Regions from separate parts of the Homo sapiens genome. Here region 1 is linked to region 2. Evidence: fine-mapped expression QTL. A gene starts in region 2. The other region holds a variant in brackets. All regions are shown on one strand. Distances are from middle to middle. Region 1 overlaps NRP1 (neuropilin 1). Region 2 holds the start of IATPR (ITGB1 adjacent tumor promoting lncRNA).

Evidence for each region. PIP is the estimated chance that this variant, and not a neighbour inherited with it, causes the effect.
Region 1: its variant is the best candidate, but not a certain one, in a credible set for the expression of IATPR in whole blood (Lepik 2017, PIP 0.52).

The regions. Positions count from the first base shown.
Region 1 is chr10:33,194,983-33,197,898 of GRCh38, reverse strand. NRP1 (neuropilin 1) reads left to right here. Exons shown (of 17, transcript NM_003873.7): 12 at 190-249. Among named protein-coding and RNA genes, the nearest start is that of IATPR, 80 kb to the right of the region's middle. The variant C/G (reference allele first, on the strand shown) is at 1,290.
Region 2 is chr10:33,115,526-33,118,441 of GRCh38, reverse strand. It overlaps IATPR (ITGB1 adjacent tumor promoting lncRNA), which reads left to right and starts at 1,635. Exons shown (of 3, transcript NR_160030.1): 1 at 1,635-1,971.

The DNA of each region.
Region 1 (2,916 bases), 79 kb before region 2:
AATAATGGTTTATTTGAATTTGATATTGTGGTGAGCAAAATTGAAGGGAAACAATTGCTATCATTGAAATTAAAAGGATTTTTCTATGGAAAATATTTGCCTCTGATAGACATTTGTAAGCATACATTTTTCTCCTGCATATTCGCTACTGTTTTCTTATTTTTGCATGTTCCTGTTTTTGTTTTTCAGGTGGCACCACTGTGCTGGCCACAGAAAAGCCCACGGTCATAGACAGCACCATACAATCAGGTATCAAATAAAATACGAAATGTGACAGATTCCATGTACCTCTCTTCTCTCCGCGGCTGCGCTCCTCGCTTTCAGTTTCTCTGAAAGTCCTAGAAGGAGAGATGCCACACAGCATCTGGTCTCCAAGCATGAGCCATAAATATTGCTTTCCTTTCATCCACATGTATATGCAGCAGGGAGTGAGATTTCCTTCTCCATCAGTAATTGCCAAATGGTGACAATCCCAGCTCTCCACTGAAGGAACGGAGTAACATACTTTGTTTAAACGCAGCACATCTAGGACATGGATTGTGTTTGCAAACTACAGGAGAAGGAAATCTCACAGGCAGCACAGCCCGACTATTTATTTTCATCCCAATCCTGCAAAACCCAGGCAGGCAAAGTTTGTCAGTTTTGCCTGCCATGGAGTTGGCAGTTTTACAACAGTGTTTCCAGTGGGCGTGCCACAAAACGGGGTTCAGGAAACCAGAGTTTATAATTGTGCACAGAGAGAAGCACACCCTTGGGAACAGCACCTCCTCATCCTTTTATTAATAGAAAAGCGTAACGACTTTTAAAGCCCTCGGTTTGCTGTCGATCAGGGGCCAGTCACGGTTAAACGGTGGCCTTCCTCTCACTGGCCTTTGTGTTTTGTTAGTATCCTGTGAAATTCTTCCCGGCAGACGTACATGAAGGGAAACAGTCAGTATAAGCAATCAGAGGTTTTAAATACTTTAAAGTTAATCATTAGACTAAGGTGAACAGGTCAGTTTTCCAGCTTTCTCCCATTTCCTCTATTGAAGCTCACTCAGTCTTGGCTTCTGCAGTCATTTATTAATGGGGCGTGTGGTGTATATCAATGTTTCCTCTATGGTATGACACTACCCAGCTAGGCAGAAAGTAGAAAGGGCCGCCCTAATTAGTATGCTTCCTTAAAGGACGCTGTCACTGTTGACCTGATTAAACTGCAAAACAAACTTCTCTTTGGTCAAACTTAACCCCCAGCTGCCCTGTAGCATGTTCAGGTTGACAAAATTCCTGCTACCACACAGCCCAGACAC[C/G]CTCTACAAAACCAAGAGATGAAACAGAAGAGTCACTGCCTAAATTCAGAAAATGGTGTCGTCCTACACACATCTTAAGTTGTAAAATGTGGCTTTCAAAGACTGCGCAGGCACCTCCCATAGCTGAAGGTATCTCATGAAAAAAGCCGTGCCTTTCCTTTTCTTTGTACCTTTCCTGAAAGTTCTCAGCCCTCAGGAAGATTTTCTGTGGATGAAGGGTAGTGACCACCAGTTGGTTCTCTATGTCCTTTCTGGGATAGGGAAGAGGGGTGAGGTGAACAAATGAAGTTCTGATCATATAACAAACATTTTAGCTGTTGTTGCAGTTTCTTCTCTTACCAGAGAGGTAATTAAAGCCACTATGAAGTCGCCAGCTAATTTGTTTCATCTCATCTCTCTTCTCCTTGACTATGAAAGGGGGTAGGGATCGTTAAAAAAAATAAAAGTGAACAACAGCTGTGTAGAAAATGGAAAGTTCTATCAGATTCCAAATCTAGGTAATCTTCCCTGAATGTTGAAGGTCAATATTGTCAGAGCAGGAGCGGTTTTGTTAACACATTTGATTTGTGCACAATCTCAAGGTCACTCAAGGGATGGCTTCTCAGAGGGGCCAGTCGGTCCTGTCACAGAGTCTACTGTGGTCAGAGGGCAGGTATGCAAATTGCAAACAGTAGGACCCGTTGCTATCACCATCTGAACAAGTTCAATCCAAACCACGCGGGTCTACTGATCAGGGGTGGTCAGGTCCGGTTTGCATTTCACAGTCAGTGCAGAGTTCTTTTCAAATTGACTTGCTTTCCTGTTTCTCCATTGTCTGAGTCATGAATCTGGACTCCAAGTGCTCTGTTTGTGGGTAATGGGCTGTCTGACCTTCCTGGAAGGACTTCTGTTGATTGTCACCTTCTGGCTAAGTCAATGCCCAGAATATTGCATGGGGACTTGAGCATGCTTCAAGCCAGGGGTCAGGTCTAACTCTGAAGAGTTGACCCAGTGGCCTGAGTCACCTGATACTTTGATCCACACTGTTCTGCAGGCTCCAGATTCTTCAAGCATCATCACAAGCAGCAGTCAATGAGACCTCAAAACCTTCATCATAATTCCATTTTGCTATTATAGACTCAACTCAGAGTCTTACTATTTCATCTTGCTGATTCTCATCAATATAATAAACTCCATGGGCATATAATATTTATATACTTTTATGTAATCAGATGCATAAAAGCTGGTTAATGCTCTGCCAGCAAGTGATGGGATCCTTACATTTTTAATCTAGCTCTCTCTGGCGAGAGCTCTAACCCTCTGAGGCTCCTCCAGCATTCCTGCAGCAGTTCGGAGTATATTCATCACCTACGATTGTATGGGCCTGAGCACCTCTGCTTGTTTAGACTGAAAGACTAGTCTATGAACAAGTGAGTTAAACTGCTCTATAGAAGTTTGGAATACCAGATATAAAAATTAAATCCTTATGCATACATATGGTGCTAATGATCCAACTTCAGGCAAGATGGGTTGGGCAAGCACAGCTGGTACTTGCTCTCAGAGGCTGTAAATTTGTTTTAAGTTCAGAATATTGTTTCCTGCTATTTTTAAGAGTCAAGAAGGGATTTAGCTGGATTACCCCCATTGA
Region 2 (2,916 bases):
TGCCACAACCTGGTGGCAAGTCTTTACAATTCTCTGAGCCTTGGCCTCCTCTTGTGTAAAGTGAGAGGTTAGGATTTCTTTTGTGTTTGGCATTTGATGATGACCCGAGGTGAAAGAGTTGTCTGCATCCAAGACAGCTGGATACCAAGGTGCCATTTTGGATCAGAGAAACTTGCACAAACTCTGGGCCAAATGGTTTTACAGTGGTCTCTGACTCTCTCAGACTAATTTAAGATGTATCCCAGAACGATTAGCCTATGGCCCATTTATATCAAGATCCAGCTGAGTTCTAATTGGCACGAGCAACCGCTGGCATGGTACACACAAGTGCTTGCAAAGGTGATTGCCAACAGCCACCCAGCTGCAGCGGAGAGGATGTGGGCACAAACCCTTCAGATTAGGGTGTGTCACTTGAGACCAGGCCAGAGCCATCAAAGCACCCTGTTTTCCTCCACCCTTTCCGACTGCCCCAAGACTGGCACAGGGTTTAGTAATAGCGAAAGTAACACTTGCCCATGTAGGGACCAACAGTCTTTTCTAGGTTGAGTTTTCTAACTTGAGTGAGGTGCCAGACAGAAAGATGCCACCAGAGAGATTTGGCTCCCCAATGTGCCATGCAGTAAAGCCTGGCCCTTATGGCCTGCCGGACAGCATTACAACAAGTGACAAGCGCACATTTACTGTCATGGCCTGACTGAAAATCCTTGTCGTCTTAATTTGTCATTCCGAAATATATGAAAACACCTACTTAGGCCACAAAGCCTTCTTTTTTGCCTAATGGTGTTCTAGAAATAAACTGGCAGTGAAGGATACTGCATTGTTACGGGGATGTTGTCAGTTGGTTTCGTTTATCCATTTATCAATGCCATTTTGCAAGAAATAGTCTCTGCTTTAGAGATGACACTTCATACATAACAGGGAGGGCGTGAGTTTTCCTTAACTGCCAGAACATTACATAATATAACATGTCACCAGGCCTCAAATGCAGCAGCAAAGACTCTGTATATAGGCGACTCCAGAGCCAACATGTGCTTAGCCAAAAAAAATGATTCAATGCCTTCAGAATGTGGGATGCAAAATGAGATTCTGTAGGAGTCAGGGGTCAATGGTGGGAGAGTGCAAGAAACAGATCTGACAGCTCCCAAGTTCGGGGCAATCTGTTCTCAGTTAACTAATAGTTGAGAGGGATCGCTGAAGGATACAACATTGATACCCCAAAGCGCTCCAATCAGTTTCACTATTTGGCCTGATTTTATGTGTCTGTTTTCCATTCCTCCCTAACTCCTTCTTGGGCTGCAGAATGGGCCTCATTTGCAGGTTTGGTTACCAGTTATCAACTTCCACTGTGATAAAGGACAATTAGGATACAACATTGATACCCCAAAGCACTCCAATCAGTTTCACTATTTGGCCTGATTTTATGTGTCTGTTTCCTATCCCTCCCTAACTCCTTCTTGGGCTGCAGAATGGGCCTCACTTGCAGGTTTGGTTATCAGTTATCAACTTCCACTGGGATAAACGACAATTAGGAGGTGGTGGGGACAGGAGTCCTGCCTGTGAAGTCCCAGTTAATCACCAAGCCATACAACCTCCCCTAAAGAGTCAAGAGCGGATGCAGGCTGTTGATGTTTTTCATTCAAAGCTCGCAATGCACCGTTCTGAAAACTCTCCAGCGTAGAATTCAGGAACCCTGAGTTTTCTATCTCTGTCTAGTTCTGGACTGAATGGGCTCAAGTCATCTAGTTAACCTCTCTGGATTTCAGTCTTCTGAAAAGTGAAGCTAAGAGATCTAGCATTCTGCAGAAAAGTACTGGAGATGACTCAGGACTGAAAATGATCATGAAGCCCCTTTGCAAATATCAAAGTGGTGATGAAGCAGTCATGAACTTTGACCAGAAGCCGTGTTTTGTGGGATTGCCACTTTAATCGCTCCTGTTCATCATTAGGACTGCAGCCAGAGTGTGGAAGGAGGTGAGTGCTTTGGTGGTCTTGCTAGGTTGCGGAGCGTGGGCTTTTGTGGATATGCAACAGTGCCCTCTATTGGCATCCGGCATATTTTAAGCCACTGGAGCTGATAAGTCCATTTTCCTCTGCCCTGTGTCTTTGTACTTCTTAGTGGAGGCCCAGAGAGCTTGTGTGTAAGGGGCTGTGACCAGACTGCTCAGCAAGGGCTTTTGCTTCGCAGAGTGCTGCGCGTACATTAGAAAGCTGCTGAGTGGAAATCTTATTCCCTGGGATTTTAAACAGCCACATTTCCTGGCGTTTGACATCAATGGGACATTTAGCAAATGGAGTGCCAGATGGAGCTCCTGGCTCTATTTTCTGTAAGACACTTGAGAGTCAGAACCCTCCCAATGTTTGCGCTTGATAGGCTTGCCCACCGTAGGGCTGGCCACGGCTCAGTGGATGCGGGGCATTCTGCGGGCTTGCAACGCGGGGAGAGCGGGGACACACAGGATAGCACGTGGCAGCTCGGCCTGCATTGCTACACACAAAAGCATTTCAAGTTCCAGCATCCTTGGTAATTCACTTTAACACTCAGTCACTCACTTCTCTTATGTTATCTGACTTCCTTACAAGCCACATGCAAGAAAACAAATAGTAATTGACTCACACTTTCACAAGCACTGTCTCTCCTGAACTTCTCAAGGCAGTAAGCAAGGCAAACCTCGGTGCCACTGTTTTGGAGATCAAGAAATGGAAGCTTAGATTGTTGAGGGACTTGCCCACAGTTCCATGGTATCACCTTATAACTTATAGAAAAAGCAATGAAATCTCAGATTTTTTCTAATATCTAAGCAGTGCTGTCTTCCCCACCCCCCACCCCCTTTTGTTTTTTGAGACGGAGTCTCACTCTGTCTCCCAGGATGGAGTATAATGGCATGGTCTCGGCTTGCTGCAACCTCCACCTCCCAG